4 linked regions of the Homo sapiens genome follow. The protein of the gene in region 1 purifies or fractionates together with the protein of each later gene. This does not show direct contact. Each region holds a gene or a part of one and is shown in the gene's direction. Other genes may lie near its edges. The genes, in order: METTL14, SRSF7, EIF4B and NACA.

Evidence for each region.
Region 2: the proteins of METTL14 (region 1) and SRSF7 purify together in Homo sapiens (affinity purification with mass spectrometry; 2 studies listed by BioGRID and IntAct, with this or other methods). This does not show direct contact.
Region 3: the proteins of METTL14 (region 1) and EIF4B purify together in Homo sapiens (affinity purification with mass spectrometry; 2 studies listed by BioGRID and IntAct, with this or other methods). This does not show direct contact.
Region 4: the proteins of METTL14 (region 1) and NACA purify together in Homo sapiens (affinity purification with mass spectrometry, with the first as the bait; 2 studies listed by BioGRID). This does not show direct contact.

Annotation. Positions count from the first base shown.
Region 1 is NC_000004.12:118,695,373-118,702,395, forward strand, and holds part of METTL14 (N(6)-adenosine-methyltransferase non-catalytic subunit METTL14), read left to right. Parts: intron 1-1,809; coding exon 1,810-1,951; intron 1,952-5,177; coding exon 5,178-5,270; intron 5,271-7,023. UniProt on the Homo sapiens protein: The METTL3-METTL14 heterodimer forms a N6-methyltransferase complex that methylates adenosine residues at the N(6) position of some mRNAs and regulates the circadian clock, differentiation of embryonic stem cells and cortical neurogenesis.
Region 2 is NC_000002.12:38,748,359-38,755,790, reverse strand, and holds the start of SRSF7 (serine/arginine-rich splicing factor 7), read left to right. Parts: upstream 1-4,429; 5' UTR 4,430-4,534; coding exon 4,535-4,562; intron 4,563-5,596; coding exon 5,597-5,777; intron 5,778-6,085; coding exon 6,086-6,262; intron 6,263-6,444; exon of another isoform or gene 6,445-6,858; coding exon of another isoform or gene 6,859-6,893; intron 6,894-7,137; coding exon 7,138-7,212; exon of another isoform or gene 7,213-7,271; intron 7,272-7,432.
Region 3 is NC_000012.12:53,030,442-53,037,464, forward strand, and holds part of EIF4B (eukaryotic translation initiation factor 4B), read left to right. Parts: intron 1-3,364; coding exon 3,365-3,593; intron 3,594-4,170; coding exon 4,171-4,268; coding exon of another isoform or gene 4,269-4,283; intron 4,284-6,967; coding exon 6,968-7,023. UniProt on the Homo sapiens protein: Required for the binding of mRNA to ribosomes. Functions in close association with EIF4-F and EIF4-A. Binds near the 5'-terminal cap of mRNA in presence of EIF-4F and ATP.
Region 4 is NC_000012.12:56,722,293-56,729,753, reverse strand, and holds the start of NACA (nascent polypeptide-associated complex subunit alpha), read left to right. Parts: upstream 1-4,454; 5' UTR 4,455-4,491; exon of another isoform or gene 4,492-4,792; intron 4,793-5,204; exon of another isoform or gene 5,205-5,230; 5' UTR 5,231-5,232; coding exon 5,233-5,302; intron 5,303-7,461. UniProt on the Homo sapiens protein: Cardiac- and muscle-specific transcription factor. May act to regulate the expression of genes involved in the development of myotubes.

The DNA of each region.
Region 1 (7,023 bases):
ACCCTGTCTCTACTAAAAATACAAAAATTAGCTGGGCATGGTGGTGCACGCCTGTAATCCCAGCTACTCGAGAGGCTGAGGCAGTAGAATCGTTTGAATCTAGGAGGCAGAGGTTGCAGTGAGCCGAGATCGCACCATTGCACTTTAGCCTGGGTGACGGAGTGAGACTCCGTATTCTTGATAGCTTACTTAAAATGCCTTTAAATGACTTCTTGTCAAGTAATTTGTTTGTTAAAGGAAGCTTAGAAAACTTAGAGTCAGGAAAGGAAGAAAACAAATATTAATTACAGCTTAGCATTCTGAGATACTATTCTTAACAATTTGGAATATGATAATTCATTTCAACCGTTGCTAAGCAGAATAATGTTTTCCTCAGAAATGTATATGAGATCTTTGAAATTGGAGAATTTAGCTTTGAAGGTTTTGTACATTTAATGATATGATAAAATGTATTTTGGGCCGGGTGCGGTGGCTCACACCTATAATCCCAGCACTTTGGGAGGCTGAGGTGGGCGGATCATTAGATCAAGAGATCAAGACCGTCTTGGCCAACATGGTGAAACCTTGTCTCTATTAAAAATACAAAAATTAGCTGGGTGTGGTGGCGCACACCTGTAGTCCCAGCTATTCGGGAGGCAGAGGCTGAGGCAGAAGAGGTGGAGTTTGAACCCAGGAGGTGGAGTTTGCAGTGAGCCGAGATTGTGCCACTGCACTCCAGCCTGGCAACAGAGTGAGACTCTGTCTCAAAAAAAAAAAAAAAAAAAAAAAAAAAATTGTATTCTGTAAGTCATTAGAAGCACCACAGAATGTTTTAGTATGTGGAGAGGAAGTCTAAGTATACTCTAATATTCATCGTATTTTAAAATACACCTTTACTTTCTTGCTTATTTACTTATTTATTTATTTAAATAGAGACAGGGTCTCACTGTCTCTATTTTGAGACCAGGCTGGTCTCAAACTCCTGGGGTCAATTGATCCTCCCACGCTGGCCTCCCAAAGTGTTGGTATTATAGGCATGAGCCACCATGCCTGGCCTAAAATACACCTTTAATGAGATGTTAAGGTGGGAAGATCACTTGAGCCCAGGAGTTTGAGATTGTAGTACTGTATAATCAGGCCTGTGAATAGCCACTGCATTCAGCCTGAGCAATATAGTGAGACCTTGTCTCAAACAAACAAACAAACAAACAAACGAAAACCCATTTACATTTAAAGTATTTTAAATTTAAAATATTTTCATGCTATGTGACAATAACTTTTCAGTAAAGGCCAGTAATAACTTATATTAGGTAGCATGAAAAGACTCTTAATAGAAACATTTTTACTAATGAAAAAACTAATAAAAGAAAACTATATGAAAACTATGTTTTGGGGGAAGAATTTAAAGCTTACAGAGAAATGGGTTTTCTAACTGAACAATTGAGAATAAAACAATGTGATATTCCTTAGAAAATTCAGATGAGAAGGGAAAGGGGTTCAGAGACACATCTGAGTATGGATTTTTAATATTGAGAGAAGAATATATTCTGGGTGTACATGGGGAAAATAGGACTTTTACTATGTAGTTTAATTACGTTCATGTCTTAAGAAAGATCACTGGTAGATCGTTTAAGTCTATACTGAAGAAAAAAAGACTCAATAAAAAGGCCTTTAGTAATTAGGTTACTGATTACTTTGTAAATAGTGTTTAGTAATAATGTTTAGTGATATCTAAGACATTTCTTTCATTACCATCTGTTAAGGTACTTGAAAATCTTATTTAAAAAGCATTTTTTTAAAAACCTCATTTTTAATGCTTTAATCAAATAGGTACTTACAAGCCGATATAGAAGCCTTTGACATCAGAGAACTAACACCCAAATTTGATGTGATTCTTCTGGAACCCCCTTTAGAAGAATATTACAGAGAAACTGGCATCACTGCTAATGAAAAATGCTGGACTTGGGATGATGTATGATCAAACTTTCTACATTGTAATGAATTATTTATTTTCAAATGAATATGTTTATTTGGTCAGAAAGTGAGATAATAAATATCATCCCTACTTTTGTAGGGATTATAAATGTAGATTTATAGTGTAAATTATAGCTGAAGGTCCAAGGTACATTGACTAATATTACATTATCTTTAATTTGAGCCTTCTTTTCAAGGCAAAAATTGAGCAGATAGCAAGTGAATAGGCTGTAGAAGACTTAAAATTTTGGTCTTAGAGTCCTTGGCTATATAGTTAGAGAAGTTTAAAAACAGATGGAATGATTCATAATTCATTCTGCATTTGATTAGTTTCAGTAAACATCAGAGCTTGTTTATGTATATAAAAACATGATTTCTACTCTTTAAACAGCTTACAGTGTAGTAAAGTATGGATAAACACCCTGTATGGACACATAATTACAATTTTGTTGATTAAACGATGGAGTCCTGCATAAGATGACATGAGAGCAACTGACCAGTCCTGGGTAGATGGGACATAGGAACATAGAGGAGGTGACACCTGAACAATATAAATAGATTAGTTGGAATTAGCCAAGAAAGATGTGGGACGGCGGTTACAAGCAGAAGGAACAACAAGAACAGAGGGGATGGAGGCAAACGACTATCTGGTTGTGGGGTGGAGGTCCTGTATGTAGGTTGGTATTGTTGGAACACAGATTGGGACTATCTTGAGGTGATGTGTTAGGAGTTGGGACTTTTATTCTGAAGACGTTAATAAGTCTGAAGAGTTTTAACCAGTTTAGTAAAAAGGTCAGATTGGTGTTTGGAAGCTGGGCTAGAGTCTGGGAAAGAATTCTGGAAAAATGGCCAGGTGTGGTGTCTCATGCCTGTAATCCCAGCACTTTGGGAGGCCGAGGAGGGTGGATCACGAGGTCAGGAGTTAGAGACCAGCCTGACCAACATGGTGAAACCCTATCTCTACTAAAAATACAAAAATTAGCCGGGTGTGGTGGCACGTACCTGTAATCCCAGCTACTCGGGAGGCTGAGGCAAGACAATAGCTTGAACCCGGGAAGCGGAGGTTGCAGTGAGCCAAGATTGCGCCATTGCACTCCAGCCTGGGCGACACAGCAAGACTCTGTCTCAAAAAAAAAAAAAAAAAAAAAAAAATTTTGGAAAAAGGAGAGCAATTAGAAGACTCTTTCTTAGAGTAACCTAATGCTGAGATGAAGGGACGCTGAATTAGGGTAATAGTAGGAATGGAAAGAAGGTGATACATTCAGCAATGTTTAGGAGGTAGATTTAGTAAGATTGAGTGATTGGGATGAGGGGAAGAGTTAAGGATAACTCAGGGTTTCTATCTTGGGATAGGTGGATTGAATTATCACCAACTGAGAGTGAGTTTCAGAAGATGAGCAGGATTAGAGAGGTTAAATAATACTGAACAAGTTGATTTCTAGGTATATGTGAGACATTCAAATGGAAGAGGTCATAGGAATAAAATATGAAACTCTAAGGACAGGCAGATCTGGTTTCAAAATACATATTTTAGAGGATTATCACATAAAATCCATGTAAATAGATGAGTTTATCCTGGGATCGTGTCTCAGGATAAAAATGTGGACTGACAGTAAAGCCGGGAAAACATTTACATTTAAAGACTACATATAAAAGAAATTTAAAAACGAGTTGTTCAGTGATGAATGAAGAGAACCAGGAGAGTATGAATGTAATGGAAACCAAGGGAACAGTGAGTTTCAAGGAGAGTGTAATCAGGACCGTTCTGCATTTCTAGAAAAGATGTGGGGCAAGGAAAGGACTGAAACTGGAAGACGTGTTTCTTAGGAAACGGATTAGAATCTTTGCATGTCCCTTTCTGAGTTAATGGTAGTTACTACTCTTAATAATATCTATTTTTCCAAGATTTACCTCTAATTCTTCCTCTTCCTTGAAACTTTTCCTATTAGCTTTAATACTCCTAGCACTTTTATTTATATTTGTATGGCTCCTATAATGTAAAAGTTTTTCCCCTTCCCTGTTTAAAGTGTTATCTGTGTTTATTGTTGAAAAATCAGAAAAGTGCACAGAATGTGGTATTTCTAAGACTTAAGATTAGAGACTTAATGCTCTTGATATTTCTTGCAGAGAAGTTTTCCAGATAGGTATAAATTTACATTCCTTTCAGTAGTGTTTAAGAATGTCTAGTTAGCCATATCCTCATTAAAGTTGAATATTAATATTAAAAACCATTTTTTATCAGTTTGCTCAAAAGAAAAAATTTAAACAATGAATCTGATTATGTTCTTTATTAATAATTAGGCAGAATTTTGTTTTCTCTAGCCAATCCGTGAGGTTTCAGCAGTGAAGGTACAAGAACTTCAATTATATGTGATAAACTAATACAGTTTTTAAAATAAAGAAATTCTATTTTATATGCAAATTCTTGATTTCAGTTTAATTTCACTGTACTTCAACTCTGGCTGGCATACTGAAAAATTTTGTCTGGCCCCAGAGCCCTAAGTTCTTTAACTTTTATGAGATACCGTCCTGAAGGAAGTGCCAGTAGTTAATGTAATAAACAAAATGTAAATAAGAAAAATGTTTGGGTTTCACAGGTATTCTTTTTCATGTTAGAGAGTCGGTAGTGGTCATTGTGTTTTACTTAAGAACACAAGCATTAAAGTACCAACACTTAACTTTTAGAATTAGTGTCAAAAGAGAATAATTTTTTTTTTTTTGGCATTTGAGACTCAAAGTAGTAATCGTAGCAAAATATGTATATTGATTTATTGAGAAGTTCTTCTGTAGACACTGGATATCACAGTCCTCCCGAAACATTTATTGTTATATTTTAATTTTAATTTTGTCCCTAACATTGGGCTTAGTTAAGTGCTTCATTCTTTTTCAGTAAATGATAAAAGATTGCTGGAGAATCTGTCTCAAGCTCCATCTTAAAAGATTGCATAAGTCTATAGCTATTGTTTCCTATAAGCTCTTTCCATATAACAGCAAGTGTATATATGTATATATGTGCACAGGTGTGTATGTTGTTTGTATATAAAGTAACAAAACAATAGAACGAGTAATTTTAAGGATAACATTTATTTTCTGTTAGTTCCTAATGGAAACTAATACACTTAAAGAACACATCTATCCTAATAAATCTTAATTGTTGTTCTTTTGGATTTAGGATGAATGGGAAACAAAATACTTTTATGCAATATCGTTTTGATTTCTTACAGATTATGAAGTTAGAAATTGATGAGATTGCAGCACCTCGATCATTTATTTTTCTCTGGTGTGGTTCTGGGGAGGGGTTGGACCTTGGAAGAGTGGTAAGATGGTGCTTTTATAAAGTGGATTTTTAAATTAATAAGAAAAAAATGTAACAGTATGTTGCATAGGATGTTTGAAAGTGGATGTTATTTTGTCCTTTGTTTCTTAAATAATTCTAAAATAGTGAGAAAAAAAAAATGTCCAGAAAAGAACGTAAGAAAGGCAATACTTGTAAGTTAGTTTACCAGCACTAGGGAGGAATGTGTAGCTCTTTCAAAAGACACTTCATTACAAGTACAGGAAGAGAACAGCTTAAAGATTTGAAACTCCAAATTATACCTCAAAAATGAGCTGCTTGGTATCATTTACAATTCTTTATGAGTAGCTAAAAAGTGTTCTATGAGTAGCTAAAAGTATTCAGGAGCATTGGCTCCTGAAATCCAAATGGAAGTCAAATAAAATTGGAAAAGTAACACAGCATATGGAAGACATGAATGAATGAGAAAGAAGTTATAATACCTGAACTTATTTTAAGTATCTGATATTTAATTGTATTTCACAGCTTTTTTATTTTTATTTTTTTATTGGAGTTTTTTTTTGTTTTTTTTTGTTTTTTTGAGACAAGGTACCAACTCTGTTGCCCAGGCTGGCGTGCAGTGGCACAATTGTGGCTTACTGTAGCCTCGACCTCCTGGACTCAACTCAAGCAGTTTTCCCACATCAGCCTCCTAATAGCTGGGACCACAGGCACACCACCACCCCTGGCTAATTTTTTTAGTATTTGTAGAGATGAGGTCTTGTTATGTTGCCCAGGCTGGCCCCAAACTCCTGGGCTCAAGGGATCCTCCCACCTCAGCCTCCCAAAGTGTTAGGATTACAGGCATGAGCCACCACCCCTGGCCCTGATTGGCCTTCACCAAAAGGAACAAAATAATATATATGCTGTTTTAAACAAGAATAACAACAGTATTATGACTAGGTATCAGGAGTCTTAATTTTGCTCTCAATTCAGCTGCTATGCTGTAACAGTAAGACTTTGGGCAAAAAGATACTCACTCTTGAGGGTCTCAATTTTGTCACATTTTATTGGTTGACACTTCGTTTTTATGACATATTATTTATTATACACCAAACTATCTCATTTAATGATTCCAATTTGGGGAGGTATCCATTTGACAATTGAAAAATTTAAGTAGGATTATATGAGATAATAAGTATGATTATATGGAAATAAGATTGTGCCCAAATTCTGAAATTCTACAATTACTGTATATTCTTTATATAAATAGTAAGGCTGTTGGGTAACATCATTGCTTCCATCATTTATTAACTCCAAGGTAAACTATAACTGTGTTTCAGTTGGATATCTCCATTTTTTTGGTGTTGGCTCTTCAAGATGCTATAGAAAAGTAAGAGCGAAACATACATGTTTTTATAGGTATATTGGTGTTTACTTTGTTTTAACTTTAATATCTGACTTTGATCTTTCCTTTCATTCCCCAAATTAGATTGAAAATGATTAGAAGGTTTTTATCTTTTTTTTTTTTTTTTTTTGAGGCAGAGCCTTGCTCTGTCGCCCACGCTGGAGTGCAGTGGTGCGATCTTGGCTCCCTGCAAAACTCTGCTTCCCAGTTGAAGCAGTTCTCCTGCTTCAGCCTCCTGAGTAGCCATCCAGGAGGTTTTTATCTTATTTACTTAATGTAGCAGTTTATCATACTGGTGAGAGTTCGGCGAAAAATGATTTAAAAAATAATTCAGCATGAGAAATACTCATGAGATTTTGATAAATTAGTGGATTAGGGCATGTAGAAT
Region 2 (7,432 bases), on another chromosome or scaffold:
ACCACCCCGTCTGGGAGGTGTACCCAACAGCTCATTGAGAACGGGCCATGATGACAATGGCGGTTTTGTGGAATAGAAAAGGGGGAAAGGTAGGGAAAAGATTGAGAAATCGGATGGTTGCTGTGTCTGTGTAGAAAGAAGTAGACATGGGAGACTTTTCATTTTGTTCTGTACTAAGAAAAATTCTTCTGCCTTGGGATCCTGTTGATCTATGACCTTACCCCCAACCCTGTGCTCTCTGAAACATGTGCTGTGTCCACTCAGGGTTAAATGGATTAAGGGCGGTGCAAGATGTGCTTTGTTAAACAGATGCTTGAAGGCAGCATGCTCGTTAAGAGTCATCACCACTCCCTAATCTCAAGTACCCAGGGACACAAACACTGCGGAGGGCCGCAGGGTCCTCTGCCTAGGAAAACCAGAGACCTTTGTTCACTTGTTTATCTGCTGACCTTCCCTCCACTATTGTCCTATGACCCTGCCAAATGCCCCTCTGTGAGAAACACCCAAGAATGATCAATTAAAAAAAAAAAAAAAAAAGAATAGACTATAGGCCAGGCATGGTGGCTCACACCTGTAATCCCAGCACTTTGGGATGCCAAGTTGGGTGGATCACTTTAGGTCGGGAGTTCGAGACCGGCCTGGCCAAGATGGCGAGACCCCGTCTCTACTAATATTACAAAGATTAGCTGGGCATGGTGGCTCATGCCTATAATACTTTGGAGGCTGGGGCACAAGAATCACTTGAACCTGGGAGGCAGAGGTTGTAGTGAGCCAAGATCGTGCCACTGCACTCCAGCCTGGGCGACAGAGCAAGACTCTGTCTCAAAAAATAAAATTAAAAAAAAAAAAAGACTAGTATTTTTTAGCATAGACTACTTATTTATATTAAAAATAGAATATTGGTGTGGCAGAGGGGGAAGTTGGGGTCCAGGAGGCGGAGTCTGAGGTCTGCCCACTTCTTGCCCTGCCTTAAAAACAAAAAAACAAACAAAATAGACTAATGTGCAAAACATTTAAATTTTTTTTCCTTTCTTGTTTTAACGTTTTCACATCCAAGCTCAAATGGTGATAATGACTTAAAAGTGAAACTGAAATGGTGAGAGAAGTACGATTAAAAAGGGAACTTTTTCTTTAATATTTATCTGGAAATACCAAATGTAGAAAATGCAGATACATTTTGAAAACTGCTGTAAAAGGCTTATGAATTACTCCCCTTTCCTAAACTAATAATATTTTTAAAATTTAACAATAGTAACATGTTAATAACTAATATTTCATATTAGGAAATATTACAATATTTGAAGAAAGTAGTTTTCATATTCAAACAATCTGAGAATGTAATCTAAATTTAACAGATTTCTAGAGGCAGAAACTTATGTGGGTGAATGTGATTTCAACAAGAATCAGCAGGAATAAAAGTTCTCTGCACAGTAAAATCTCCCTGATTTGGACTGACATTTAGTGAAAAGAATTGGTTGCCTGTTCTTAGAGAAAGAGTGTTCAGTAGAAAGTAGAATAGTCTATGGAAATAGTATACAGTACTATTATTTTTTCATGGTAACCAGATTAACAAAGCCTGGCCTTGTACTGGCCCTGCTTTCATAGGAATAAACAGTATGTAATTAGCTTATTGAACACCTGTCTGCAAGACAAGCATGTCTGTGAATCAGGATTTGAAAGCAATTGGTTATAAATTTTAAAACTGCTTCTGTTTACTATTACTTGCTTAGAAATTTCTTTAGTACAACTATAGACTTTGTTTTGTTTTGTTGGTAGAGATGGGGGTCTGGTTCTGTTGCCCAGGCTGGTCTCAAAGTCCTGGCCTCAAGATATCCTCCCACCTCAACCTCCCAAAGTGCAGAGATTACCGGCATGAGCCACAAAACCTGACTTAGACTTTGTATTCAGAGTCAAAAAAAGTTTATTGGAAAAAAAAAAGTTTATTGAGGTTTATTAGGAATTATACAGTATAACATGCACTGTCTTTCAAGCAGTTATCTATGCTTGGCTCAACAGTAATTTTCTTTTTTTTTGAGTCGGAGTTTTGCTCTTTTGTTTTGGAGATGGAGTTTCACTCTTGTTGCCCAGGCTGGAGTGCAATGGCGCAATCTCGGCTCCCTGCAACCTCCACCTCCCGGGTTCAAGCAATTCTCCTGCCTCAGCCTCCCAAGTAGCTGGGATTACAGGTGCGCACCACCACGCCTGGCTAATTTTTTGTATTTTTAGTAGAGACGGGGGTTTCACCATGGCCAGGCTGGTCTTGAACTTCTGACCTTAGGTGATCCGCCCGCCTCGGCCTCCCAGAGTGCTGGGATTACAGATGTGAGTCACAGCGCCCGGCCTAGGAGTTTTGCTCTTGTTGCTCAGGCTGTAGTGCAATGGCAAGATCTCAGCTCACCACAACCTCCACCTCTCAGGTTCAAGCGATTCTCCTGCCTCAGCCTCCCGAGTAGCTGGGATTACAGGCATGCGCCACCACGCCCAGCTAATTTTGTATTTTTAGTAGAGACGGGGTTCCTCCATGTTGGTCAGGCTGGTCTCGAACTCCTGACCTCAGGTGATCCGCCAGCTTCAGCCTCCCAAAGTGCTGGGATTACAGGCATGAGCCACTGCGCGCGGCCTCAACAGTAATTTTCATAGCTTCTTAACAGAAGAAAGTCAACTTAGTGAGGCTTTACAGAATTTATATTTTATCTTTCAGATACCATATAATCTTTTTTTTTGAGATGGAGTCTTGCTCTGTCGCCCAGGCTGGAGTGCAGTGGCACGATCTCAGCTCACTGCAACCTCCGCCTCCTGGGTTCAAGCAGTTCTCCTGCCTCAGCCTCCGGAGTAGCTGGGACTACAGGCACACGCCACCACGCCAGGCTAATTTTTTGTATTTTAGTAGGGACAGGGTTTTACTGTGTTGCCCAGGCTGGTCTCAAACTCCTGAGCTCAGGCAATCCGCCCGCCTCGGCCTCCCAAAGTGCTGGCATTACAGGCGTGAGCCACTGCGCCTGGCCCCTATATAGTCTTTATAATTATTGTTTAATTCTTTTGAGAAGAACCTATAGATCTTTATAATTATTGTTTCTTTTGAGAAGAACCTTGTTAAGAAAAAAATCACCAAGACTAAGGGAGAACACATATACTCTACAGAGCTTCTATTTTCTTCTTAGAGATCTTCCTGAGAGAGATTAATTCTCTCCATAACTTAATCAACGTAAAAAATATGCATAAAATCATAGCATGACCTGGAAAGAATCCATGCTTTATTCACCAACTAGGCCTGCTTTCCCTGTACTCTCCATTCCACACCTATACTCACCAAATGAAGTTGCAAAAGACGAAAAAGATAAAAATGCAAATACCTAAATGTCTTTTTTTATGTACATTTCCAACTTTTGTGTATTCCAAGAATTTACGATGTAATGTCTATGTTTCTAGCAAAAAAGAACTTTTTCTCTATTTGTAGTTGGTGTCTAGAGCAATTCTAATGTAAAGAAGTTTTGCATTTATTTGGTACTGTTGAGTGGCTGAGCAGCAAGGCTGCTATTTCCACTGAGTGGAGATACACAAAGATGACTTAGGAGTCCCAGTCCTCAGGATCGGAGTATTGGTGGATCACACGTGTTACAAAGCAGAAAGCATTAGGAAAAGCAAATCAGTTACTTTGAGCTTCAGATGCAAATAATTTCCAAATTGTCACTGGCCAAAATGCTTTAAACATTCAGGGTTTTGTCACAATTTCAATATAAAGGGGGGAGGGGGGAGCGGGACCCCACAGCTCTATTCCTTTGTCTTTCAGACTCCAAGAACTCAGACCGTGGTGGTGCAAACTGGTGACTGGTTCAAAAGAAGTTGGAGGGGGCGTGTAGGACAGGAGGCTTTACCACCAGTCCCAGGGTGCGTCAAGGTCTATGGTGTAAAAACCACTACTCAGAATGGCGGGGTTCATGGACTTTTCACCATGGCCAAACCTTCGATTACCTCTGATGAGCCCCAAAGATCAGAGTAGCTGACTAGGCCAGGTCCCCCAGCAGAAGGGCGCGACGGCTGCAACATCAGCGGTTAAATTGTACAGCCTTTCATAGGCCGGTCTAATGCATCCGTACTAAGATTGTTAAGGCTGAGGGTCCCTAGCCTGGGGAAAAACGAAAGGAGGCAGAGGGTAGGGAGACGGGAAAGAAGACAAGGAGGGTGTAGAAAACGGGGAGAGGAGGGGGCGGGACAGCATGGGGAAGGCCTCAGGTTTACTGGAGAGATCGTGGCGTTCCCATAGAAACGTATCCCTCCGCCCATGACCCGCGTGTTAGTCTCTTCAGTTCCTTCCGCGTCGTTTCTTGGCTGTTTCCGCCCAGCTCCTTTGTGCCGCGCAGAACAACGAGATGACGCATGCGCAAAGCGCAGCGGCCGCATATATAAACGCGAACCCGGGCTCTTCCTCGTAGTGCCGCCGGGACTCTTGGCGGGTGAAGGTGTGTGTCAGCTTTTGCGTCACTCGAGCCCTGGGCGCTGCTTGCTAAAGAGCCGAGCACGCGGGTCTGTCATCATGTCGCGTTACGGGCGGTACGGAGGAGGTAAGAAGCTGGAGTCCGGTGAGGGACGTTGGTGTGGGTGTAGTGAGCACTGCGAGGCCGTAGGGTTGTCGCGGAGGTTGGGAGACGGTTATTCCGCGTGCGTAATGGCGGCTTAGGAGCACGCCAGACGAAGCCGGAGGCAGCGGAGGCGGGGTGCTGAAGGGAGACGGGATGGCGGGTGTACATCTCTGCCGAGTTCCGTACTCTTGGGCATTTTTGTGGCCCAATCCAGCCTAAAGCAGGGTTGAGATGACGGTTTTCGCGTTGCCTTTCTCGGAGCTGCCCGCCGGCCCCCCTCCCCCCCCGCCCTCGGCGGCGGCTGCCATTTTGCGCACATTGAGGACCGTGGTGGCGCATTTCCTCAGCGCTTTCCCGCCACTTCAGCGGACAGATCTGGCCGCAGCTGTAAGATCGTGGTTGTGTTTGAGATAGAACGAAATTGGCAGCTGTGAGCTGCATGTTCTCGTCAAACAATCGGTTAAATTGCGGAATGGGAATGGGGACGTAATCTGCGACTGGCGGCTGGGTTTTTTTTAGTTATTTCCAGCGCGGTTTATGGCTCTGGGGCGGGGAGCTGGAGTCTTGGGCGAGCCTGTGCCTGGGACGTTTGCCGCGGAGGACGAGAGCCGGCGCAGCCCTGCTCTCCTGGCCCGGCCCCTACCGAGGCCCTCCCGCCGCCGACGCCGCTGCCGCTGCGGGCCCGCGCGCTCCCGGTGCGCCCGGGGCTGCCGGGACTCATGGGTGGGGCCGGGCCAGGTTCCGCCCCACGCCTCGGTGTATCCTACCACGCGTTTCTGCTTGTGTTCGGGAGGGTCACCCCGCATTATTTAGAACGTTAAGAATTTTGTCAAAAGTCTAGTTTCTCAGGGATTTGCGGACTTTCACCAGTTTTACGACTAAGTTTTGTCTTGGATAGAGGGCATTAAATGTGCTTTACCCAATCTTGAGGATGGCCCGTTTTAAGGCAAATAAGTAATTGAAACTTGGGCCAGATTTTGCGTAACGTGCATTCTTCTATTTGCGTTTTTAAACAGAAACCAAGGTGTATGTTGGTAACCTGGGAACTGGCGCTGGCAAAGGAGAGTTAGAAAGGGCTTTCAGTTATTATGGTCCTTTAAGAACTGTATGGATTGCGAGAAATCCTCCAGGATTTGCCTTTGTGGAATTCGAAGATCCTAGAGATGCAGAAGATGCAGTACGAGGACTGGATGGAAAGTAAGTAAGATGTTATGAATCTTCTGTTCATTAAAATATACTGTGGCTAGATAATGAACTTAGTGCTAAATTTGGATTCTGAAGTCTGGAAGAGACCTTAAATAGCTGGTCATAGTGTTAAATGCTAAAGGCACACGAAGGTTAAAGAAGATAGCGGAGATGGAGTTAGGGCTTGGTAAAGACCGCCAAAGTTTGTTGGGGGGGAAGGAGTGGTTGGAAAGAGTGAGTGGTTGGAAAGAGTTCTTTTTAAATCTATAAGTCCTGAATATATTTTTAACTTTAGAATTTTGTTAATTTGCTTTTATTAGGGTGATTTGTGGCTCCCGAGTGAGGGTTGAACTATCGACAGGCATGCCTCGGAGATCACGTTTTGATAGACCACCTGCCCGACGTCCCTTTGATCCAAATGATAGATGCTATGAGTGTGGCGAAAAGGGACATTATGCTTATGATTGTCATCGTTACAGCCGGCGAAGAAGAAGCAGGTATTTATTTTAATAAAGGAATGGTTGGTATTCTAGTTAATCAAGTAATTCTTTTATTAGCAAGGCAGAAACTAGTGTTTTTCTATAAACTTGAATGTTAATTGTACAGGTGTATTTTACAATTTTTGTTTAATTAAAAAAATGTTACTATATTAATAATCAACCTGGTCAAAACCTTTCAGGTTTCTTCGTTTGAGTCAGTCGCCTTGATTCAGAATGTCACGAGCCTTATGATATCATGCTGAGGCGCCTTGCAAATCCGACAATTAAGATCCTCCTAGACCTTGAGGTGATCAGCATAAGAGGCCAGATCCCCTCGAGTCATCTACACCTAGCTTCACCTTATTCTTTAAAGGGCAGAAAATTTGAGACGGTGATCGCCGTAACAGTAAATTTGGCTTACAATTGGGGCCCCCCTCCGGTTTAGAAAGAGGAACACCAGATTGACCACATTCCCAACTAGAAAAATCTTCTTGCGTCAATCAAGCCTCACCTGGCTCATTTGGCTGTCAGTTTGATCGTCGTTAGATTGAAGAAAACATCTAGATGCAGCGATCGGCTATAGATACTTCTAGATCGTCTAGATCTACTAGACCATGGGCCAAAGAGGGTCGACCTGCAAACTTGCAAGGTTTATTTTAAATACACATTACAGTGTTTTATATTATGTAATGCTAAGTTGTAATTCAGCTTTTAACAAATCTTTTTTTAGGTAGTAAAAAAAAAAATACTCAACAACTAATAGGCCCAGAGTTTATTTCCAAATGAGACACTAAATTTAAATAGTTTTGAGATTTGATTTCAGCAGAGGCACACAAACTCTTAAAAACGAGTTATTGTCTGACATTTTGTTTTTTCTCTAACTTGAAAAATAGGTCACGGTCTAGATCACATTCTCGATCCAGAGGAAGGCGATACTCTCGCTCACGCAGCAGGAGCAGGGGACGAAGGTGAGATCTTGTTTAACTGAAGTCTTTCTGTATTATTATTAAATTCACTGGTAGTCCAACACAGAAAAAGCTCATTATTTTTTTTGGAGACAGGGTCTTGCTCTGTCACCCGGGCTGGAGTACAGGGGCATAACCACGACTCACTGCTGCCTTGATGATCTCTTGGGTTTAAGCAGTTCTCCTACCTCAGCCTCCCGAGTAGCTGGGACTGTAGGCACTG
Region 3 (7,023 bases), on another chromosome or scaffold:
ACGGAGTCTCTCTCTAGTTGCCCAGGCTAGAGTGCAATGGCGCGATCTCGGCTCACTGCAACCTCTGCCTCCCAGGTTCAAGTGATTCTCCTGCCTCAGCTTCCCAAGTAGCTGGGCTTGCCACCACGCCCGGCTAATTTTTGTATTTTTAGTAGAGACGGGGTTGCACCATGTTGGCCAGGATGGTCTGGATCTCTTGACCTTGTGATTCGCCCGCCTCGGCCTCCCAAAGTGCTGGGATTACAGGCGTGGGCCACTGCGCCCAGTGAAAAAACTACGTTCTTAAAAGCGATTTCCTCAAGCAAGAAGCCTAAAAATAATAGCTAACATTTATTAACCATTTACTCTGTTCCATCAGTGAGCTGAGGGCTTGTACAAGTATTGTTTAATTCTAAGACTTCTGTGTGGTATAGGTAAAATTACAAGTTAGAAAAGTGGAGGCTCAGATGTGGGCCTCATGTTCTCCTTGACTTCTGACCTTTTCCTCTCTCACACTGTCCCTTACCTCCCCACCAAGAGCTGCATACCTAATTTTTTATTTCTCTTCTTGCTCTTACCCCCCCATTCCCTCTAAGATTTGCCCTCTTGTCTCTAGTTGCTGCTGCTACCTTCGTTGAGGCCTCATTGCTGCACCCACGTTACTGGCCATTGCCTCCTAACAGAGTTCCCTTTCTTGCTCCGTTCTTCACATTGGCCCCAGTTGTCAGTTGTCTTTCTGGCATAAGATCTAATTACCTTATTCTCCTGTTTAGACCTGTCTAGTTTCCCCATGGCCTGGAACATAGCCCTTTCTCTATACCTCTGACATACACGGGCCTTCACTGTTTGCCCAGCCTTTACTTTTTTCTTCTTGAGACAGGATCTCACTCTGTCGCCCAGGCTAGAATTGCTGTGACATAATCATGGTTAACTGTAGCCTCAGCCTTCTGAGCTCAAGTGATCCTCCTTCCTCATCCTCCCCAGTAGCTGGGACTAGAGGTGCGTGCCATATGCCTGGCTAATTTTGATATTTTTTCTAAAGATGGGGTTTCTCCACATTGCCCAGGCTGGTTTTAAACTTCCAAGTTCAAGTGATCCACTTGCCCTCGGCCTACCAAAGTGCTGGGATTACAGGCGTGAGCCACTGTGCCCGGCTGCGTTCTTTTATTAATATCTTAAATGAGCTACTTTTTCTGAGCCCCTATTTTATCTTACAAAAGTGACGGGGCTATAACACAGATTTAAAATATGTTTAGGAACATATATAAACTGTCGGCTTAAAGCCCTCGTAGAAAATTTAGATCTTGTTAAACAGTACCCTCTATCTACAGGTACTATGTGCATATGTAGTAAAAGTATAAAATCAAGTGTGGGCATGATGAAGTCACCATCTAGTGGTTATTTAGAGGACAGAGTACAGCTGGTCATGTCATCAGGAGGTTTTACCTCTTTGTTAAGGTTACATTACTTAAGCCAGGTGATTGTATACATAGGCTTTCTTTATATTCTCTGTATCTTTTGTATATCCAAAATATTTAGGACAAACAATCATTTTTAGAAATTTAACTTCCTTGAAACACTTAGGTTTCTCTTGAAAGTGTTCTGACAACTTGAATTGAGGAAGAAATCAGACTGCCTGCCTTAAGAGTTTATTTGTTCAGTGTTACATGCTTTGCCCCATGAACCACCTGCCAAATTTATATTATACACAGAGACAAGGGTATAAGATCTAGAGTCTTCCTGGCTGGGCGTGGTGGCTCACATCTGTAACAGCACTTTGGGAAGCCAAGGCAAGCGGATCACTTGAGGTCGGGAGTTCAAGACCAGCCTGGCCAACATGGTGAAGCCCCATCTCTACTAAAAATACAAAAATTAGTTGGGCATGGTGCCACGTGCCTATACTCCCAGCTACTGAGGAAGCTGAGGCAGGAAAATCAGGGAGGCAGAGGTTGCAGTGAGTTGAGATCACACCACTGCCCTCCAGCCTGGGTGACAGAGCGAGACTGTCTCAAAAAAAATAAAGAACTAGAATCTTCCCTATCATATTGTATTAGTTCTTAACATGCAGATTTCGGAGCAAGATACTTTCATCCAGTAGTTTAATGATGGTCAAAAATTTCTTCCCATATAAAAGAAGTCTTGATAGATTATTAATTTATTACTTAAATGTTTACCATTTTTAGTCTTTCCTGTGGTCTTGTACTACATCATGGATGTGGTAGAAGAGTAATTGAACTTGGGTTTTTTTGTTTTTTTTTTTTTTTGAGATGGAGTTTGGCACTTGTTGCCCAGTTTGGAGTGCAGTGGTGTGTTCTCAGCTCACTGCAACCTCCGCCTCCCCGGTGGGTTCAAGCGATTCTCCTGCCTCAGTCTCCTGAGTAGCTGGGACTACAGGCATGTGCCACCACTCCTGGCTAATTTTGTATTTTTAGTAGAGATGGGGTTTCTCCATATTGGTCAGGCTGGTCTCGAACTCCTGATCTCAGGTGATCCGCCCGCCTCAGCCCCCCAAAGTGCTGGGATTACAGGCGTGAGCCATTGCGCCCGGCCAGAACTTGGTTATTTATGCCACCTATTTTTATTTTTATTTATTTTTATTTATTTATTTTAGGCGTAGTTTTGCTTTTGTTTTCCAGCCTGGAGGGCTGGAGTGCAGTGGTGCGATCCTGGCTCACCACAACCTCTGCCTCCCAGGTTCAAGCGATTCTCCTGCCTCAGCCTCCCGAGTAGCTGGGATTATAGGCATGCACCACCATGCCTGGCTAATTTTTTATTTTTACTAGAGACGGGGTTTCTCCATGTTGGTTGTGTTGGTCTCGAACTCCCGACCCCAGGTGATCCACCCGCCTCGGCCTCCCAAAGTATCGGGATTACAGACGTGAGCCACCACGCCCAGCCTGAGCTACCTATTTTCTTTTTTTTTTTTCTTTTTTTTATTTTTGAGACGGAGCCTTGCTCTGTCACCAGGCTGAAGTGCAGTAGCTCGATCTTGGCTCACTGCAACCTCTGCCTCCCAGGTTCAAGCAATTCTCTTGCCTCAGCCTCCTGAGTAGCTGGGACTACAGGTGCGCGCCCCAACGCCCAGCTAATTTTTGTATTTTTAGTAGAGACGGGGTTTCACCATGTTGTCCAGGATAGTCTCGATCTCTTGGCCTTGTGATCCACCCGCCTCGGCCTCCCAAAGTGCTGGGATTACAGGCGTGAGCCACCATGCCCAGCCTAAACTACCTGTTTTCTAATGATCTATTTGCCTTCTGTGGATTGGTTAGGCCACTAACTTGAATCTCATGTAGCATTTCATAGGAGTTATATCTGAGAAATCTGGCTTTCAGCCATCAGCTTCTGGTGATTGGAAAACTATTACTTAAAGTTTCATTTAACTTAGGTCCCCCCCAAAGACCCAAACTGAATCTAAAGCCTCGGAGTACTCCTAAGGAAGATGATTCCTCTGCTAGTACCTCCCAGTCCACTCGAGCTGCTTCTATCTTTGGAGGGGCAAAGCCTGTTGACACAGCTGCTAGAGAAAGAGAAGTAGAAGAACGGCTACAGAAGGAACAAGAGAAGTTGCAGCGTCAGCTGGATGAGCCAAAACTAGAACGACGGCCTCGGGAGAGGTGTGTTGTCTTGATGGATATCCCATCTAGGAATCCGGTGGTTCGTAATGGGGGCATTACATCCCCAGGGGCATTTGGGAAATTTGTGTCGTTATCACATTAGTGGTTGTCACTGATGGGCATTTAGTGGGCTGTGGCCAGGGGTGTTAGGCAGTATGCAGTGTTAGGGACAGTTTTACACAATGAAGAGTTGTTCCCTGTCCATTACAAAAGTGTTTACTATTAAAAGCTGGTATTGTATCTAAAAGGCTAGAGACCTACTATAATAAGTAATTGCCCTGAAAAACTAGGCCTGGTAATGAGTGGCTTGTAGAACTGTGTTGATTAGTAAAGAAGGGCAGTATTGTAGATTATGTAGGATACTGTTCTTAACCATATTAGTTGATTCTTGCTGAAGTATTTAGGGCCAAAGTGTGTCTTAATGTCTGTAGCTTTCAAATAGTTTGAGGGAAAGATAAATTTATATGCATATACACATATAGATGAAGTAAGTGATGGTTCTTGAGGGGTCAGCATGGGTCTAAGGTGGCCTTCACTGAGCCAGGCATAATGTGTATTTTGTGAATCTCTCGTACAGACACCCAAGCTGGCGAAGTGAAGAAACTCAGGAACGGGAACGGTCGAGGACAGGAAGTGAGTCATCACAAACTGGGACCTCCACCACATCTAGCAGAAGTAAGTCAGACCAGGGTGGGTATCGTGTTATTGCCGTTTTCCATAAACTATCCATAACCAAATTATGCAGAGACCCTGCAATATTTAAATTCAGTCATGAACTCTTTATTTGGGTTGCATGGGCCGATTGGAGTTTCATATCTTCTGCTCCAAAGAATCTGAGGAATGGGTACCAGAGTAGACCTAGATGATCTGCTTAATAATCTACCACTGAAGTGTATACTTGGTTGTTAGGTTTGTCTCTCTCTTTTTTTTTTTTTTTTTTTTTTGGTATATTTTCATTTTATGTCTTGACATCTTTGAATGTTGTTTATTCAGAACAGTCAACGGCTTGGAGTTTCATGTGAGCTGTCCCAAGACCAGCCTTTTTTGATGTTATCATCACCAGAGCAGTGTTCTCAAGCAGTGTTATTACTGGTTGATCAAGCACTTTTAGTGTTTTGGAAACCTAAATGGTTCAATTGTAATACCTCCCTTCCCTTACCATGATGTGTTTTTTTTGTATTTTGTTTTGAGACAGGGTCTTACTCTGTCACACAGGCTGGAGTGCAGTGGCATGATGATGGCTCACTGTAGCCTCACCTCCCTCAGCCCTCAGCCTCCCTAGTAGCTGGAACTGTAGGCATGCACCACTACACCCAGCTAAATTTTTTATTTATTTATTTTCTTTTTTTTTTGAGACCGAGTCTCGCTCTGTCGCCCAGGCTGGAGTGCAGTGGCGCGATCTCGGCTTACTGCAAGTTCTGCCTCCCGGGTTCATGCCATTCTCCTGCCTCAGCCTCCCGAGTAGCTGGGACTACAGGTGCCCACCACCACACCCAGCTAATTTTTTGTATTTTTAGTAGAGATGGGGTTTCACTGTGTTAGCCAGGATGGTCTCAATCTCCTGACCTCATGATCCACCCGACTCGGCCTCCCAAAGTACTGGGATTACAGGCGTCAGCCACCGCACCCAGCCTACACCCAGCTAAAATTTTGTAGAGATGGTTTCCCCATGTTGCCCAGGCTGGTCTCAGCCTCATAAAGTGCTGGGATTCCAAGGGCCAGCCACTGTGATATTTTTTAAGGTCTTTCCTCCCACCTCTAAATTGATTTGTACTTGCATTTCATTCATTTATTTATTTATTGAGATGGAGTCTCGCTCTGTTACCAGGCTGGAGTGCAGTGGCACGATTTTGGCTCACTGCAACCTCTGACTCCCTGGTTCAAGCAATTCTCCTGCCTCAGCCTCCTGAGTAGATGGGATTACAGGTGAGCGCCACCATGCCCGACTAATTTTTTGAACGGGCTGGTCTCAAACTCCTAACCTCATGATCCACCCGTCTCGGCCTCCCAAAGTGCTGGGATTACAGACGTGAGCCACCATGCCTGGCCTTCTATTTTTTTTATTTTTTATTTTTGTATTTTATTTATTTATTTTGAGACGGAGTTTCGCTCTTTTTGCCCAGGCTGGAGTGCAATGGCATGATCTCAGCACACTGCAACCTCTGCCTCCCGGGTTCAAGTGATTCTCCTGCCCAAGCCTCCCGAGTAGCTGGGATTACAGGAGTCTGCCACCAGGCCTGGCTAATTTTTTGTATTTTTAGTAAAGACGGGGTTTCACCATGTTGGCCAGGATTGTCTCCATCTCTTGATCTTGTGATCTGCCCGCCCTGGCCTCCCAAAGTGCTGGGATTACGGGCGTGAGCCGCCGTGCCCGGCCTAGTTTTTTATTTTTAAGACAGGGTTTCATTCTCACCCAGGCTGGAGTGCAGTGGTGCGATCATAGCTCACTGCAGCCTCAAACTCCTGGCCTCAAGCAATCCTCTTGCCCCAATATCCCAAGTAGCTGTTATACGACGGGTGCACGCAACCATGCCTGGCTAAATTTAAAAAATTTGTTTTTTTAGAGATGGGGTCTCACTACACTCCCCAGGCTGGTCTCAAACTCCTGGCCTCAAGCAATCCTGCCTCAGCCTCCCAATGGGGGCTCCTTGTTTTTAGAAGACACTTAACTGCATTTTTTAAAAAACGCACGTGTAGGTTGTTGTTTTTTGAGATGGAGTCTCACTCTGTCAGCCAGGCTGGAGTGCAGCAACATGATCACAGCTCACCTCATCATTTCTAGTAGCTGGGACTGCAGGCACATGCCACATCCAGCTAATTTGTCTATTTTTTGTAGAGCTGGGGTTTCACCATGTTGTCCAGGCTGGTCTGAAACTCTTAGGCTCAAACGATCCGCCCCCAACAGCCTCCCAATATCCTAAGATTACAGGCGAGAGCCACTGCACCCAGCCAGTAGGTGGTTTTTCATAAATATGATTGCATCATAGTCCATGTGTGTTGAGTTTTAAGCTGAAGTTGAGCAGTGGTTACTAGAGTTTGGGGTTTCATTGTAGGTCCTCTTCACATATGTATATTCTCCAGGTCAAGACACTTTTAACATTGAGAATGCAGAAAGGCTGTAAAGGATACTCATTCCTAAAAAGGTCACATGGCTGGGTGTCCCTTAAGTTGTATACATGGTCATTATTTTTTCTATTTCTCTGTGCATCAGTAAGACATTGTTCTGGAAATACTTGTAAACCACTGGTTTAGGGATAAATCCATCTTTGGGAGCCAAAACTTGGATGTGGACCATTTTCCACACTGTTGAGATCCTGGTAGATGCGTGAGCATCTGCAGCCTGATAATTTGATATTTTCACTCTGGCTTCACAGATGCACGAAGGAGAGAGAGTGAGAAGTCTCTAGAAAATGAAACACTCAATAAGGAG
Region 4 (7,461 bases), on another chromosome or scaffold:
GTTTTTTCGTTTGTTTATTTGTTTGTTTTTGAGCCAGAGTCTCACTCTGTCATCTAGGCTGGAGTGCAGTGGAGCAATCCGCCTCCCTGCAACCTCCACCTCCCAGGTTCAAGCGATTCTCCTGCCTCAGCTTCCCGAGTAGCTGGGACTGCAGGTGCACGCCGCCACGCCCAGCTGATTTTTTGTATTTTTAGTAGAGACAGGTTTTCACCATGTTGCCCAGGCTGGTGTCGAACTCCTGAGCTTGGGCAATCCACCTGCCTTGGCCTCCCAGGTGTGAGCCACCTCACCTGGCCCAAAAACTCTTCATTATTTGAGCTTATGTGTACTATAGGTTATTAAGTCTTCAGGTTCTAGAAACAGTGGGTCGATTAAAACTCCTGAATACAAAATTACTAGAGACTCATTATTCCAGAACTAATCAGTAAAGAACTCAGAAGGAGAGTGGAAAGACTGGTATGCTTTTAAAAAGAGACTTTTTTTTTTTTTTTTTTTTTTGAGACGGAGTCTCACTCTGTGGCCCAGGCTAGAGTGCAGTGGCGCCATCTCGGCTCACTACAAACTCCACCTCCCAGGTTCGCGCCATTCTCCTGTCTCAGCCTCGTGAGTAGCTGGGATTACAGGTGCGTGCCATCATGCCCAGCTAATTTTTTGTATTTTTAGTAGAGATGGGGTTTCACCGTGTTAGCCAGGATGGTCTCGATCTCCTGACCTCGTGATCCACCCGCCTCGGCCTCCCAAAGTGCTGGGATTACAGGCGTGAGCCACCACGCCCGGCCTCAAAAAGAGACATTTTCAGCTTTCATTATCATTTTATAAATATGTCTAGCATTGAAGTGCCTTAACTCCTGGGCTCAAGGGATCCTCGTGCCTCAGCTTCTGGAGTAGCTGGGACTACAGATATGCGCCACCTTGCCAGGCTTACGTTTTATTTTGTTGTGGAGACGGGGTCTTGCCATCTTACCCAGGCTGGTCTCTAATTCCTGAGTTAAGCAGTTCACCTGCCTTGGCCTCCCAAACTGCTGAGATTACAGGTGTGAGCCACGGCGCCCAGCCAATGTTTAGTTCTTAAAGACAGCAAAAATATACCCAAGGACTACTGACTTCCCCTTTTCTTGATTTGCCAATTCAGTCACATATTAGAACTGTAGAAACAAAGGGGCAAAGAAATGGCTTCTATCTTCAAAATTGCCAACTTAAGAAACACGCTAGCCGGGTGTGGTGGCTCACACCTGTAATCCCAGCATTTTAGGAGGCAGAGTGGGCAGATCACTTGAGGCCAGGAGTTCAAGACCAGCCTGGGCAACATGGCAAAACCCCGTCTCTACAAAAAATACAAAAATTAACTGGGTGTGGTGTTGTGTGCCTGTAGTTCCAGCTACTCGGGAGGCTGAGGTGGGAGAATCGTTTATGCCCAGGAGGCGGAGGCTGCAGTGAGCCATAATCACCCCACTGTACTCTAGCCTGGGCAACAGAGCCAGACCCTGTCTCAAAAAAAAAAAAGGAAAAAAAAATACATCCTTCCTTGGCTAGTCATTACTACAGAGAGAGGAAAAAGTAAGTGGGCTTGCTGGGGAAGAAAGAAAAATTGTGAATATGTACTTTTGTCTAAGGAAATTGGCTATTTCTGGTCCTTCTGAAGGTAAATGGACTAAAGGACTGCATTGAAAATCTTCCAGATCATGTATTTATTAGGTAGAAATTGATTATGTCTACAATTTAATAGTAACAAACTTTTTAAGTTTTATGTAAAGATTACATGGGATAATTTTATGAGATAGACTGTTTCTTTTTCCTTCCAATTAGAGTGTGAGTGTGTGTGTGTATATATACACACAGACTAATTTAATCTTCCAAACAATCCTATCAAGCAGCTACTATTTTTCCCATTTTACAGATCAGGAAACTGACATGAATATATATATAGGTTAATTGCCTAAACTGACCTAATAGATTTAGACAAAGGAGTCTTATTTCAGAGTCTGTCTTTAATGACTCCACAATATTGCCTCTCCTATTTGAGGAGGATTTCAGAATTTCCCATTCCTGGTAAACCCCACTATCTCACTTAATTTTAATTCACCAATCCTAATCCTCATTTCACTACGCTAAGGATTTCAGAAATGTTAAAGTAGCTTTCAAAGCATTTTAAATTTTCACTGCTTCCCTTAAAAGGCGGCCACACCAGGTATGGTGGCTCACACCTGTAATCCTAGCACTATGGGAGGCCGAAGCGGGTGGATTGCCTGAGCTCAGGAGTTCGAGACCAGCCTGGGCAACACGGTGAAACAGGAGAAGTTTTGTGGCAGGAGAATTGCCAGAATCCGGGAGGTGGAGGTTGCAGTAAGCTGAGATCGCGCCACTGCACTCCAGCCTGGGTGACAGCGAGACTCCGTCTCAAAAAAAAAAAAAAAAAAAAGGTGGCCACAGTCGTCTTAAAGCTATTAAATCAGGCCAGGCATAGTGGCTCACACCTGTAATCCCAGCACTTTGGGAGGCTGAGGCAGGCGGATAACCTACGGTCAGGAGTCCGGGCGGGGAGGCGGGTACCTATAATCCCAGCTACTCTGGAGGCTGAGACGAGAATCGCTTGAACCCGGGAGGCCGAGGTTGCAGTAAGCCGAGATCGCGCCACTGCACTCCAGCCTGGGCGACAGAGCGAGACTCCGCCTCAAAAAATAAATAAATGTTGACTGGTTTAGCTAATTCAGGTACAGCAAATATTTGTTGAGTTCTTTTGTAGGGCTGTGGGAAGATATGGGAGGCTTTTCATTAACACAACACTGATTTTACATTCTACTTTTCAAAAATACAGTTGTACAAAGCATGGTTTAAGGTGGGGTCCCAGACACCTAGAATAAATAAGCTTAGAATATCCAAGAAGTGCCAGGGGCGGTAGTTCACGCCTGTAATCCCAGCACTTTGGGAGGCCGAGGCAGGCGGATCACCTGAAGTCAGGAGGAGACCAGCCTGGCCAACATGGAGAAAGCCCGTCTCTACTAAAAATACAAAAAATAGACTGGCGTGGTGGCGCATGCCTGTAATCCCAGCTACCCGGGAGGCTGAGGCAGGAGAATCGCTTGACCCGGGAAGGGGAGGTTGCAGTGAGCCGAGATCGTGCCTTTGCACCCCAGCCTGGGCAATAAAAGTGAGACTGTCCCAAAAACAAAACAAACAGGCTGGGCATGGTGGCTCACGCCTGTAATCCCAGTAGTTTGGGAGGCCGAGGCAGGCGGATTACCTGAGGTCAGGAGTTCAAGACCAGCCTGGCCAACATGGTGAAACCCGTCTCTACTAAAAATAAAAAATTAGCCGGGGGTGGTGGCACACACCTGTAATCCCAGCTACTCGGGAGGCTGAGGCGGGACAACTGCTTGAGCCCTGGAGGCGGAGATTGCAGTGAGCCGAGATCGTGCCACTGCACTCTAGCCTGGCCGACAGAGCGACTCAAAAAAAAAAAAAAAAAAATCCAAGAAGTGCCCAAAATAGCAAGCAAAGGAATTGTATATGTGCCTATGTTCTTTTTTTCTGGGAAGGAGAATCTGCAGCTTTATAATTTCAACATCGGCTAAATTGTCGTGAACCTAAAACAATCAAAAGGGCCGGAATCTATTTAAAGAGTTTATTCAAGGGCAGTGTGAGGATGGACCAACCAGAAAACCTCCAAAGAATGGAGTCAGCCTTCAGAAGTAGAGAAGTTACGATTTCATTTATTTAGGGAGACAGAGGAGTTTTTAGCTGGATTACGTTATCCATACAAGGTTGGAACATAATTACAGAATTTGGTTACAAGAAGTGTTTTTTTTGGGGGGGGGGCGGGGGTACAGCTAACATTGTTTTACGAAGAGTTTAACACGCATGAGTTGCTGTCATCTGGTGACATCGTTTGAGTCTCTCTAGTCATTGAACAGAACAAGAAAAATCGAATTAAATTTATAATCTGAACTGAAGTTATATGTGACCCATCACATCTCTCAAGTTTTAAAATGGGTTTTTTTGTTGTTGTTGATGGGGGGGGAGAGGGTCCAGCAGCTTTTAAATGTTTTCACATCGTGTGTTCCAAAAATAACTGGTTAGCCTAAGTCACTTCCACCCTCCAATGTTGTGAATGCAGTCTCTAGCATTCGCTATTTAATGTCTTCTTCCTGCACTATTTGAGAAATCGCGAGGTCGACTTAATACCGCAGTCGCCACTTCGCGGACCGGAGGGCGGAGTCTGCTTAGTTCTGAGGACTGCGTGGGTCCGCGCAGAGAGCTCCTGCTAGGCCTGCGCGTCCCGTTCTAAATTCTTACCCTTTAGTCCTTGTCACCACCCCCGCCGTGGGAACGGCCTGACAGTCACTCGTCAAAGGAAGTGGCTGCCGGCAGCTCTTGACCCGGAATCGGATCCTAGTCCCACCCCCTCCGCTCCAGGCTTCCTTCTGCAACAGGCGTGGGTCACGCTCTCGCTCGGTCTTTCTGCCGCCATCTTGGTTCCGCGTTCCCTGCACAGTAAGTACTTTCTGTGCCGCTACTGTCTATCCGCAGCCATCCGCCTTTCTTTCGGGCTAAGCCGCCCCGGGGACTGAGAGTTAAGGAGAGTTGGAGGCTTTACTGGGCCACAGGGTTCCTACTCGCCCCTGGGCCTCCGGACAAAATGGGGTCTGCGGTTGGTGTCCTGGCAAAAGCAGGGTAGAAGGGCTGCGGGGCGGGCCCAGAATCCGAGCCTGCAGAGATGGGAGCAGTTGCAGTGTTGAGGGCGGAAGAGGAGTGCGTCTTGTTTTGGGAACTGCTTCACAGGATCCAGAAAAGGGTAAGGGGTCACAGCCTTAGAACCTGTAACACCGTTCTCCCTGTGACAAGCAAGTGTTGGACTTAAAACACCGTCTTTCCCCTCCTGGTACCCCAAAGTCGGCAAACGTAGTCCAGGAGGCCCCAGCCCAGCCAGTGTGAGTATTAGGAGTGGAGGGGGTTCACAGTAGCGTCTGAAGTCTCCCATGATCGAGAGCCAGCCCGGGATCCTCTCCCTCGGGTTGAGAATGCAGTGGGAATTGCTGGCCTTGATAGAGGCGTGAGGGTCACATCATATTTACCTCTTATTCCCAGGTGCTTTGGGGAAGGTTGTCACCAAACACCCTCACGATTTTTTTCTAACAGCCCTCCTCGGAGTTTTTAAGAATACTTATCTCCGGGTTGGGCAAGTGAATGTATCCCAATCAATTTAGGCCTCCTTTTTATTCCCTTCCTTCAGAAATGCCCGGCGAAGCCACAGAAACCGTCCCTGCTACAGAGCAGGAGTTGCCGCAGCCCCAGGCTGAGACAGGTAGGTTTCCCTACCCTCCTTGCCATTAATTAAAATTAACCCTAAAGCCATTTGGTGGGCAAAATGACCAAGGGGAAATACACTTTTTAGGAGGATGGGGTTGCAGCTTTACCAAGGAGGATAGACCGTAAAATTACTATCCTGGAGATACTTCTTTAGGGATTTGGAGTAAAAATAATATTTTTAAGATTCGTGGACGTTAAAAGTACCCTAGCTTGCTTTCTATGTTATGCCTGTCGCCTCAAAAGAAGCTCTCCTGTGGAACCCCCACCTCACATAGGAAAACTCAGCAGGGAATGGGCTCAGTGATTCTTACCTATTGGAACTAGATGACACAGGCCAAGGAGCCCGGAGCATTTGTGAAACTCCAGCCAGCAAGTTGCATCAAGGTTTTAGTTAGCAGAGCTTGGCATTGTGCCTTTATCACATGTCTGGATGAGATGTGTGCTGGTGGTAAATGTGTCCTACTGGGCCCCAGAGTCGTCCTAGGTCGGATAACTTGTTTATGGGTTGGTGGTGCTGAGATACTTCTAGTGTGCTGGAATAGTTCCTGCATCATTGTGTGAAACCCAGGATTGAAATAAATCCTTTTATCCTCAGCGTCGAAATTAACGACTGTGAAGGCTAATTTTAAATTCTGGTTAAAACATATCTCTGTAGAAAACTTAGGAGGAGGTAATGAAAAGTTCTTAAAATGATAGCCTTTCTGAGTCAGTTGTGCAGCGTTAAATGAAGGAAATCTTCAGGCTGTAATTTTCATTCTCACCTTTTTGGTTTTTTTTAAATTTCATTTGTTATTTAAGGGCAATTCCTGTCCCTTTTTGGAGTTACAGTAGAGTTGCTTATAGTTGAAAGCATAAAGTTTCTTCCCACCTGTTTGATTTTAACAGCTGAAGGGATTAATACAGCTGCTAGGAAGGACAATAGGGGGCTCTAAGCTGGAGTATAAACAATATGAAATTCTTGAAGTACAAGGGGCTTAAGGAAGGGAAAAAATAAAGTACTGTTCTCTAAAGATTCTGTAATTTCAGTACAAAACGAGATTTTAGAGATTGTGTCATTGAACAACTTAATTTTACAAATACGAAGATTTGAAATTCAGATGAATTTAGAATAATCTGATTCAAGCTTCAAAACTAATGCATTTACTTCTGAAACAGTCCTTAATGCTATTAAACGTATTCCTGAATAGTCTGAGTTGCATAGTAGGCTTATATTAAGGAAGTACCAATGATAAATACACAAGGTTTTATCTGTAATGATAGTCTATTAGAATGAAGAAGGAAGCTCAAGGAATTGTTGATGGTGTCAAAGCAAGTATTTGAGTGCTTATTCCATTTGAGGTCCAGTCAGAAGAAAACATATTCCATGTTTTTAATTCTGATTCATTATGTTTGGTAGCGTTTTCCTGTAATCGTTAGACTTTGGCCTACCCACTCTCCAGGAAAAACTAGTTGAGCCACCTTGTCTTTTCCATGGTAGGATGCCATAAGAACTTCAGAATTACTGGTTGAGTGAATTTTGAATTTGAATTTTGGTACCACGGGCTTCCCCCCCGCCCCCCTTAACATTCCCTTCTAAGCATTGAGCATTTGTTGATCCAATTCTGTGTTACCTCCTGAATGCCAGAGATACTGTCTTACTGTCATGCCAAACATTGGTGTATTTTGACATAATGAAACACTTAAATTCCAAGTTAAGGAGTGGGGATCCAGTGTATTCTCGCCACTCCAATTGTCTTCTTTGGTTTGTTTTGTTTTGAGACGGAGTCTCACCCTGTCACCCAGGCTGGAGTGCATGCAGTAGCGCGATCTTGGCTCACTGCAACCTCCACCTCCTGGGTTCAAGCCATTCTCCTGCCTCTGCCTCCTGAGTAGCTGGTATTACAGGTGTACACCACCACGCCCAGCTAATTTTTGTATTTTTAGTAGAGACGGGGTTTCACCATGTTGGTCAGGTCGGTCTGGAACTCCTGACCTCGTGATCCGCCCTCCCAGGCATCCCGAAGTGCTGGGATTACAGGCATGAGCCACTGTTACAGGCTCTCCAATTCTCTTCTTCCAAAATAGCACCACAATCTGGTTTAACAAGTTAGGTTACAGTTTCATAATACAGTCCCTACCCTTGTGAGTAAGCTCTCTGCCTGGAGGTCTAATTCA